2 separate regions of the Homo sapiens genome follow, and region 2 is linked to region 1. The links come from fine-mapping of genetic effects on gene expression. A gene starts in region 1. The other region holds a variant in brackets. All regions are shown on one strand. Distances are between the middles of the regions.

Region 1 (5,367 bases):
CTACCCCCTCGGGGCTCCCGCCTCTTCGCCTCCATTCTCCCCTCCCCCAACCCCTTCGGGACTCCTACCTGTCTACCCCCCTCCCGGGGTTTCCCTGTTGGTTCAGGGCTGTGGGGGATTCCCCTTCCCCTTCTTGGGCTCCCCTCTCCCCACTTCAGTTCTCCCCTCCTCCTAGCCCCAGGCGGGATCCTCTCCCCTCCCCGCTTCTCCCTCTGGGACTTCCCCCTCCTTCTCTCTCTCCCTCCCCCGTCGGGGCTCCCCCGATCCCCGTGACTCCTAGGGAGCCGCTGGGGTTTTCCTCATGCGCCCACGTGAGGCTCCGTGGAAAGGTCGCGGCCTGCGGGCAGGACCACCCCACCCCCTCCCCACTCCCCCCTAGTTCCCAGGCTTGGGGGCTGCAGGGCAGAGGGGAACCGAGGTCGTCCCGGCGCCTGGCCAGGGCGGGCCCACTCTGCAGACCCGGGGCGGGAAGACTGAGGCCGGGCACGGAAGGGCTGGGCCACGCTCCCAGCCCGGGGCAGGGGGAGTCACCACCGCGCCTGCAACTTTGGGAGAAGTAGGAGGTGGCTGGCCAGGGCTCGCAGTTTCGGTTTACAGGCAAAACGCAGCACTGCGCCAAGCCCGGCTGGCCCGGAGGCCGACTTCCTGGGGTATTTTTCTGCTTGTTGATTTTAGTTTGCGGAAATAAAAAAAGTTTTTTTCTTTAGTGCAAAAGAGAGGCCTATCCTGGGATGGAGAAGGCTGTGGTGGGCTGGGGGGGCACTCCCTGGGGAAGCCTCCAAAAGCGCTCTTCCTTGCAAGCCCTGAGCTCACCTCGCTGTGTGGTACCAGGTGCCCCCTTGACCGATCCGGACCTTGGGCTGCGGTGGCCGCCTAGGCGGTCAGGGGCTGCAGCCAGCACCCCCTCCCGCTGAAATGCCTCCATATGTGCCCAGAGCTTGGGGTTGGCTCCTGCACAGCCAGTAACAGTGGTGGCACGGCGGCCAGGTTTCGTAATAAACCGGTCTCTTAATTGCTGCAGGGTAGGAGGAGAAGGAAAAAAAAAAAGAGGCATAGATTTGTTGGAGTCGGTGGCGGCGCCTGCTGCGGAGAGAAGGGGTACTGTTTCTGCACGGGAGCCTGGAGCTGCTAACAGGGGCTTAAGTAACACTTCCTGGTGAGCTGGCGGGGGTTGTGGGGGGTGAAGCGTGTCCCCGGGGAGGGGGCAGGGGTCCTAGTTGTTCTAGAAGCCGAAAACATACAAGCAACCAGAGGCTTTAGAAATTTATTACAAGGCCCTCATAGTAGAAATAAAAATATAGATATCTATGCTTCCCATCTCGCTCTCAGTGGTTCGAATAACAAGTGCAAGTAACAAAATAGATTGTCTCTATAATTCGCAAACTGGGAGTTCATGGGTACAGAGCAACTTCAGCCCCAGCTCCCAAGTCCCAAAGTGTGGTCTTGTCGAGGGTGCAGACAAGGACCAACCAAGTTCAACCAAGTCTCTCGTATGCAGACGCCAGCTCCAGTCTCAAGGAGGGTGGGGCTTGCAGTCAGTCTCACTCCACCCCCGAGTGGACAGTCTGGACCCTCCGTGATGGGGAAGGCGGCAGCGTGCCCCGCCACTCCGGCTTCTGCTCCATCCCAAGGCCTCAGCTTCGGGGGTCCTGTCTCCTGCTGGCCTGGGTCCCCCCTTCTCCATCGGATCGGCGGCCGCCAGCTCCTGGATCTCCGCCCTGGGGGCGGCCGCTCACTCCCCTTCTCCTCCTCCTCTTCCTCTTCAGTCTCCAACGACTCTGCCCCCGATGGTCCTCGTGGGTTGGGTTGTTTTGGGGGGGTTGTGCTGGGGGGGAGGGGGTTCAAATATTTATTGTATTTTTTGTTTGTGGCAGCAACTCAACAGATTCTGCTGCTGGGAAGGGCCTCAGCGTTCCTGAAGAGAGATGTAGGGGACCCACTGGTTGTTGCCCCGGCTTTCTTCGCAGTAGCTGGCCACCTCCACCAAGCCGTGGCTCTTCCAGGCGTCCGTGTGAGGGTTCTGTAGGAGGGAAAAGAAGGGGTTTAGTGGAGCCTCCCTCTCCCGGGGCCCCTGTGTGGGGAAAACAGTCAGGCTCAAAATAGCTTCCTGGGTGAGGAGGCCCCAGCCCGGCTGCCCACGGGACATGCCAAACGTGGCTGAGCGCTGAGCTGTGCAGGACCAGTCAGCCCGACTTTGTTGACAAACACCGGCCCAGGTGCCCGGGCGTGGCGGGGCAGGGCAGAGGCCCGACTCACCGTGACCAGGAGACAATGCAGGTCTCGGGCCTCGGTGGTGCCCTGGGTCTCGGCCGGCTCTCCCAGGAGCTGCGCCAGGCGCTGCATGCCCGACACCCGCACGATGTTGATGTCGTTGTCACAGCAGAAGGACTGGATGAGCGTGAAGTGGATTTGCAGGGCGATGTCATCCTCCTCCTCCTCGTCAATGGCCAAGAGGCAGAGGACCACGCTGTCTGGGTCCCTGAGGGGGCCAAAGGGTAGGGATGGGTCAGCCGGGGACAGGGGAGGGGCCACCGTGCAGGGGGAGTTTGCAAAAAAGGAGCGTGCAAGAGCAAAAGAGAAACTGCAAGGGTGCAGGGGATTGCCTCTGCAAGCTGGTGACGGTGGGGGGAGGGGAGGGCACACGGTTCAAAGTATGGGGTAGGGGGAGACAGGCCCACGGCGGGAGGGGTGTTTGCAGACGATACATCAGGATACGGCAGCCCCCGATCCACAAAACGGCAGAGAAGCTCTGCATCCACAGCGGGGGGCACTTGGGGAAGTCCCAGCTCCATGCAAGACAAGCGTGCGGAAAGCGTCCAGAGCGGAGGGGAGGTCCCGTCCCACCCGCGCCCAGCCCGGGAAGGGGGTCTGACTCACACATTCATCAACTTGGCCGACTCGTACACCCCCACTGTGAGGCGATCCTGGCGCTGAGCGGCCACCAAAAGCTCCTCCACCGCGGCGGTCACCGTCTGCATCCTGAGACCAGGAAAGAGGGATCAGTGACGGGCGGACCACCGGGTGCTACGTTCCGCTCCCGGCCCGGCCCAACCCGACCCATCCCGTCCCGGCTGACCTCAGGCGGCGGCAGCCCCGGCTACTTACTTCTGCGCCGCGTTGTCGCACGCCACGAGCTCTTCCAGCGTCATGTTGCAATTATAATCCACAGTGGATGCGGCTCCACGGCAGTCCCCAGGGAGAAATTGCAAAATCCGAGCCAGAGAGCCCAAAACCTTCCCACAGAGCTAGAGCGCTCGTCCAAGACCTTCGGGAAGCAGCGAAATCCTTCCAGAAAAGGCGGAAAAATATATTGCAAAGTCCTTGGCGAGGATAATCCAGGAAGTTGCGGAAACCAACGGTAGTCCGACGCTTCGGCGATCTGAGCTGGGAGCCTCCGGCACCGACTTTTATAGACTTGAACATTGGGCGTGGCCTCAGTGGAGTCATTCGCCCCTCCTATTGGTGGAAAGACAAGGGCGAGTGCAGCTAGCTCTGCGGTTGGCCGACGGAGGGGAGGGGGAGGAGCGGCGTGCGGGGGCGCCCCACGTGGGGGCGAGAACCGGGAGGAGGGCGCGCGGGGGCCGGGTAGGTGACCGCGAATGCCAGAAAAGAAAAAAAAGCAGAAGTTTTTTTCTCCTGATTTCCCGGCAGCCGAGCCGCGGTTCGGGGCGCGCGCGGGATTTCCAGCGCGCGAGGCGGCCCGGACTTTCGGGGGGGCCTGGAATCCCCTCCCGATCCGCGGAGAGTCCCGGACCGCGCCTTTCCCAAGTTCTGCTGGGGGTGGAGGGGCTGCACCGGGAAGGGGCCCCGTTTGCAGCGTGATCTCGCCCAGGTGGTGGTGAGGGCCGGAGTCTCTCCTGGCTGCGACGACCCCAGCCCCTGGGTGATTTCGCTTCTCCCGGCCTCTCTGTTCCCGTCTGAGTAATGGGTCTGCAGCGCCGGCCTCGCTGGTTTGCAGAGCATGGCATAAAATACGGCTGACAGTAAGAGCCCAATACACATCAGCTGTCACCTGGTGGTCGCGGGAGGCCTCCTCGAGGGCCCCGAAAGTGGGAGGTTGCAAAGCCCGGGGCGCTCTGGAGAAGAAAGTGGGCGCCTCCTCGCCGACCCCGCGAGTATCAGGGTGGGGTGCGCGTGGGAGGTGCAGGTGGCGCGGCCCCGCCCCCGCCGGCTGCCTGGCGTTCCAGCCTTTGCCCGTGCGGAGGCCTCCAGGCCCTGGAGAAAGCCATTGTTGAGGGGAATGGTGCAGGCTCCGGCTGCACGCCGCCACCCAGGGCCCACGTGCAAGGATGACGGCTACTTTTATTTCTCACTCCGGGGTGGGCGCTGACCTGCATTGAGTGCGTGGTGCGGACCTGGTACCCCCCACCCCTCCGGATTCATGGATGATTTAATCCAAGACCTGGGAAGCAGGGGGGATGCTTATGTGCATTATGCAAAAGGGGAAACTGAGGCTTGGTGAGGCCATAGGCTAGTTCGTGTTGGAGCCACGCGTGTGCGCCAGGCACGGCCGCCTGCAGGACTCCGCCGCCCCGGGAAGGCTGTTCAGGAGCGAGGCTGGCAGGCCCCGCATGACAACGTCTCCCACGGTCGACTGGGGGCTCCCGGGTGACTCACATCTGAGTCCCCTCCCCCGCCAGCCTGGGGTCTGGCCTCCGCCCGGCGGCTCACTTTCCCCAGTTGCCCGGCTCCCCGGCCCGCGGGTCCGGCTGACGCATCCCACCTCCTCCGCGCCGCCCACCGCTGGGGCACGAAATGTCCCGGGGCTGCGAGGCGCGGTGGCGCCATCTGGTGGCCGCGCCGAGTTTCTGCGCCCTCAGCGCCGGAAGAGAGGGACGGACGGGCGGGGCACTGGGCTGGAGGCGGGGGATAAGGGGACCGTGGCGGTTGCAACGTTTTATGTAACTTTATGCAATGTTTTACGCATGCAACATACATATTTATATTTTATAATTTCAATTTAAAAGTTAAATCGGCCGGGCGCGGTGGCTTACGCCTGTAATCCCAGCACTTTGGGAGTCCGAGGCGGGCGGATCAACTGAGGTCAGGAGTTCGAGACCAACCTGACCAACATGGCCAACATGAGCTGAAGATAAGGAAGATCAGGGAGGTGGGTGGGATAAGTGCAAAGTCAGATTCTGTCTTTATTTACAATTTTGATATTTTGTTCCTCATGGATACTTGGGCATTGATTTTGATTTTTAAAAAGTATTGCAGGCTGGGTAATCCCAGCACATTAGGAGGCTGAGGCGGGCAGATCGTGAGGTCAGTTCGAGACCAGCCTGACCAACATGGTGAAACCCTGTCTCTACTAAAAACACAAAAATTAGCTGGGCGTGGTGGCACGCGCCTGTAATCCCAGCTTAC
Region 2 (5,367 bases), 28 kb before region 1:
CTGAGGCTGGCTTAGCTTTTTTTTTTTTTCGCTTAACTTCCTATGACCGACAGCTTGCTAAGTCATTGCATTTTTATGAAGGAAAACAAAAAAGATATAAAAATAATAATTTTTTAAAAATCAGTGCATTTTAACAACTCCAGAGTAATTTAATTTACATGCTTAGCCGGACGCGGTGGCTCACACCTGAAATCCCAGCACTTTGAGAGGCCGAGGCGGGAGGATCACCTGAGGTCAGGAGTTCAAGGCCAGCCTGGTCAACATGGTGAAACCCCGTCTCTACTAAAAATACCAAAATAAAAAATAAAAATTAGCCAGGCATGGTGGCAGGCACCTGTGATCCCAGCTACTCAGGAAGATGAGGCAGGCAATGAACCTGGGGGGCAGAGGTTGCAGTGAGCCAAGATTGTGCCACTGCACTCCAGCCTGGGCAACAGAGCGAGACTCCATCTCAAAAAAAAAAAAATTATATACTATTGATGGACATTTAGATTATTTCTGAGTTTTGCTACTTTTACACACTATCTTTCAATAAAGTGCCTTATGAACATGTTTCTTTCTTTCTTTTTTTTTGACACGGAGTTTCACTCTTGCCGCCCAGGATAGAGTGCAATGGCGTGTTCTCGGCTCACTGCAACCTCCACCTCCCGGATTCAAGTGATTCTCCTGCCTCAGCCTCCCGAGTAGCTGGGATTTAGCTGGGATTACAGGCATGCACCCACCACGCCCAGCTAATTTTGTATTTTTAGGAAAGACGGGATTTCGCCATGTTGGTCAGGCTGGTCTCGAACTCCTGACCTCAGGTGATCCGCCTTCCTCAGCCTCCCAAAGTGCTGGGATTACAGGCATTAGCCACCGTACCCAGCCTACATATTAATTTCTGTACACACACTTGGATGTGTGTGTGCATTCCAGCATATGTGTGTGTACCGGTCCCTAGAATTATGAGACATTTTTATTCCCTCATATGTAAAATGCCTATTCATACTTTTTGTTTCTTTTCTTTTCTTTTTTTTTTTTTTTTCTTTTTTGAGACAGGGCCTGCTGGCTCTGTCGCCCGGGCTGGAGTCCAGTGGTGCTATCATAGCTCACTGCAGCCTTGATCTCCCAAATTCAAGCAGTCTTCCCACCTCAGCCTCCCAAGTAGCTGGGACTACATGGAAGCACCACCACACTCAGCTAATTTAAAAAAAAATTTTAAAGATGAGTTCTTGCTGTGTTGCCCAGGCTGGTCTCCAATTCCTGGGCTCAGGTGATCCTCCTATCTTGGCCTCCTAAAGTGCTGGGATTACAGGTGTGTGCCACTGCACCCAGTCTGTTTATTTCCTAATTAAATCACTTGCGTATTTCTTTGGGATGAAAGACACTTTTTACGCAGGCTTGTTAATTCTGGTCTGTTACAAGTGTTGCAAATATTTTCTCCTAGACTATCATTTAGATTTTTATGTCTGGCACACAAAACTCATCAACATGTTCCTTTCTTGATTCTCTAGGTTTTGTGACATGCTTAGTTAGAAAACTGTTCCACAAACTAAGATTTAAAATGATACATCCTGGCTGGGCGCGGTGGCTCACGCCTGTAATCCCAGCACTTTGGGAGGCTGAGGAGGGTGGATCGCGAGGTCAGGAAATCGAGACCATCCTGGCTAACACGGTGAAACCCTGTTTCTACTGAAAATACAAAAAATTAGCTGAGTGTGGTGGTGGGCACCTGTAGTCCCAGCTACTCGGGAGGCTGAGGCAGGAGAATTGCTTGAACCCGGGAGGTGGAAGTTGCAGTGAGCTGAGATCCCGCCATTGCACTCCAGCCTGGGTGACAAGAGCAAGACTCTGTCTCAAAAGACAAAAATGTTGTACATACACAGCATGGAATATTATGCAGCCACAAAAAGGAACGGGATCATGTCCTTTGCAGGGACATGGATGGAGCTGGAAGCCGTTGTCCTCAGCAAACTAACACAGAACAGAAAATCAAACACCACATGTTCTCACTTATAAGTGGGAGCTGAATACTGAGAACACATGGACACAGGGAGGGGAACAACACACACTGGGGCCGCTGGGGGGTGAGGTGAGGGGGAAGGGAGGGAGGGCTCCAGGATAAAGAGCTGACGTACGTGGGGCTTTTTGTTTGTTTGAGACGGAGTCTCGCTCTGTCACCCAGGCTGGAGTGCAATGGTGCAATCTCAGCTCACTGCAACCTCTGCTTCCCAGGTTCAAGTGATTCTCCTGCCTCAGCCTCCTGAGTAGCTGGGATTACAGGCGTCCGCCACCACACCCAGCTAATTTTTGTATTTTTAGTAGAGACGGGGTTTCACCATGTGGGTCAGGCTGGTCTCGAACTCCTGACCTCGAGCAAGCCACCCACCTCGGCCTCCCAAAGTGCTGGGATTACAGGCATGAGCCGCCGCGC[C/T]CAGCAACATGTGGGGCTTAATACCTAGGTGACGGGTTGATTGCAGCAAACCACCATGGCACATGTTTACCTATGTAACAAACCTGCAGGCTTGGGAATTCTGATCTGTTATAGGTGTTGCAAATATTTTCTCCTAGACTATCATTTAGATCTGCACATGTATCCCAGACTTAAAATTAAATTATTTTAAATTAAAAAAAAAAAAAAGAATCCAACTCCTCGTCTTTCCCAGCGTCGAGGGGCTCACATCCCTCAGCTCGGGGCCCCTTCCTCCACCTTCGCAGCCAGGAGCGCAGCCTCTTCTAGTCTTTCTTATGAGGGACCCTGTGAGGACACTGGGGACTCCAGATCATCCAGGCTGCTCTCCCATCTCAGAGTCCTTCACTCAATCGCACCTGCAGAGTCTCTGTTGCCGTGGAAGGTGACATACCCCTGTGCTCCCGGAATTAGAACAAGGACATCTTTGCCGGCTGCTATTCAGCCAACCATAGCTTGGGCTCCCCAGAGGCAGAGCCTGAGACAGAAGGTTCATATGCTCTTGTTTTCTGGGGGAGTCCAGTCTGATCCTCCATACGAGAGGGAGAGACCAGGACAATGAAGCAGGGAGCGAGAGCAGGCCCATAAGAGGGTGTGTCACTGCCTCAGCCTTGGCTTAATATAGGCGCCCTCGACCCCGCAAGCTCACGGAGCCGGCGTCTCAGGGCCCGTAGGCGGGAGGAGGTTGACTCACCGGCTCCTCACTGGCCACAGGCTCACCTCTGCACTGACTGGTTGTGGCTGCCTGTGTGCAGGGGGGAGCTCAGGTGCAGAGCTCACACCTGAGTGACATCCGTCAACACCTGACGGAGCTAGCCCGTGAGTGGGTGAGGTCGAGGGGCTCTGCAGGGGAGCATAAGAGGGTCTCATACCAGGACCGGCCATGTAACGTGCAGGGCTCAGTAAAAAATGAAAACACAGGGCCCTTTTTCAAAAATGTTTAAGAATTTCAAGACAATGACAGCAGCATTAAACCAAGGGTGGGGCCCTTCCGACCACACAGCGCTTCTGATCATGGGGCCCTGGGTGACTCACAAGTCGCACACCCATGAAGTCGGCCCTGTCTCATACACCCACCAACATATTTTTCAGATATTCCAGAAGGGGTTTGCTTAAGCTATTAGGACAGAAAAAAAGTCACAACAGATTGAAGTCATTAAACATTTAAAGCCTTTACTGGCCGGGTACAGTGGTTCATGCCTGTAATCCCAGCACTTTGGGAGGCCAAGGTGGGTGGATCACCTGAGGTCAGGAGTTCGAGACCAGCCTAACCAACATGGCGAAACCCCGTCTCTACTAGAAGTACAAAATTAGCTGGACGTGGTGGCTCATGCCTGTGATCCCAGCTACTCAGGAGGCTAAGGCAGGAGAATCACTTGAACCTGGGAGGCAGAGATTGCAGTGAGATGAGATCGCATCATTGCAACAAGAGCAAAACTCCATCTCAAAATTAAAAAAAAAAAACAAAAAAACAAAACCTTACCCTTATAACATGCTCACTTCAGTAGCACATATTCAAAAAGTTGGAAGGATGCAAAGATTAGTATTGCCCCTGCGTAAGGATGACATGAAGCATTTCATATTTTTAAAAAAGAAATAATAATAATTAAAAATTGCCAGGCGGGTGGCTCACGCCTGTAATCCCAGCACTTTGGGAGGCCAAGGCGGGTGGATCACGAGGTCAGGAGATCGAGACCATCCTGGCTAACACGGTGAAACCCCGTCTTTACTAAAAAAAAGTACAAAAAATTCGCCAGGCGTGGTGGCGGGCACCTCTAGTCCCAGCTACTTGGGAGGCTGAGGCAGGAGAATGGCTTGAACCCGGGAGGCAGAGGTTGCAGTGAGCCGAGATGGAGCCGCTGTACTCTAGCCTGGGCAACAGAGCAAGACTCTGTCTCAAAAAAAAAAAAAAAATTAGAGATCTTGTCTGGATTATCCAGGTAGGCCCAATGTCATCACAGGGTCCTTGTAAGAGGGTGGCAGGAAGGTCAGTCAGAGAAGGAGACATAACAACAGAAACAAGAGGCTGGAGTGATGTGAAGTCACAAGCCGAGTTGTACGAATAACTCCTGAAATCTGGAATACACCGGGAAACAAGTGAAAGAAGCTGCAGCCTTCACAGCCTCCATGCTACGATCCCAACTAGAAAAGATTCCGCAAAAGGCAAAGCTATACATGAGTAAAAACATCAGTGGTGGCTCACGCCTGTTATCCCAGCACTTTGGGAGGCTGAGGCGGGTGGATCACCTGAGGTCGGGAGTTGGAGACCAGCCTGACCAACATGGAGAAACCCTGTCTCTACTGAAAATACAAAATTAGCTGGATGTGGTGGTGCAGGCCTGTAATCCCAGCTACTCGGGAGGCTGAGGCAGGAGAATCGCTCGAACCCGGGAGGCGGAGGTTGCAGTGAGCCCAGATGGCACTGCTGTACTCCAGCCTGGGTGACAGAATGAGACTCCATCAAAAAAAAAAAAAAAAAAAAAAAATCAGGGGTTACCCAGGTTGAAGGAAGCGGGGATAAGGGTGAATAGGTGGAGCACAGAGGATTTGGGGAGCAGTGAAATTACTGTATGTGACACTGTCATGGTGGATATGTAACCTCATGCATTGGGTAAAACCCACAGAACACAGACCTCCAAGGGTGACCCCTACTGTAAACTCTGGACTGGGCTGGGTACGATGCCGAATGCAGACACTCTGCCTCTGCAAAGCAAAGAAGGGTCCACGCCACAGATGCCACAGAGCGCAGACTGATGGAGGGAGGGCACGATGGCCTCCTCAACCAGGCCGGGGAAGCACACCCAAATTAAGTATACATTGCCTCCCAAATCCAAGGAGATGCATTTGACGTCGTGCCTTCTCTTTGGTCCTGGGAAGGGCCAGAGGCAACAATTTATCTTTCACTTGACGTCAAGCAA

What was found. PIP is the estimated chance that this variant, and not a neighbour inherited with it, causes the effect.
Region 2: its variant is fine-mapped to the expression of GADD45B in whole blood (TOPMed, PIP 0.95).

Annotation. Positions count from the first base shown.
Region 1 is chr19:2,474,141-2,479,507 of GRCh38, reverse strand. It overlaps GADD45B (growth arrest and DNA damage inducible beta), which reads right to left and starts at 3,381. Exons shown (of 4, transcript NM_015675.4): 1 at 3,106-3,381; 2 at 2,878-2,979; 3 at 2,257-2,479; 4 at 1,251-2,020. The coding sequence starts at 3,149. The coding sequence ends at 1,907. RefSeq lists enhancers at 631-740, 1,131-1,180, 1,991-2,060, 2,081-2,140, 2,211-2,370 and 6 more and silencers at 1-560, 4,121-4,230, 4,601-4,740.
Region 2 is chr19:2,501,716-2,507,082 of GRCh38, reverse strand. It overlaps the pseudogene RNU6-993P. Among named protein-coding and RNA genes, the nearest start is that of GADD45B, 28 kb to the right of the region's middle. The variant C/T (reference allele first, on the strand shown) is at 2,414.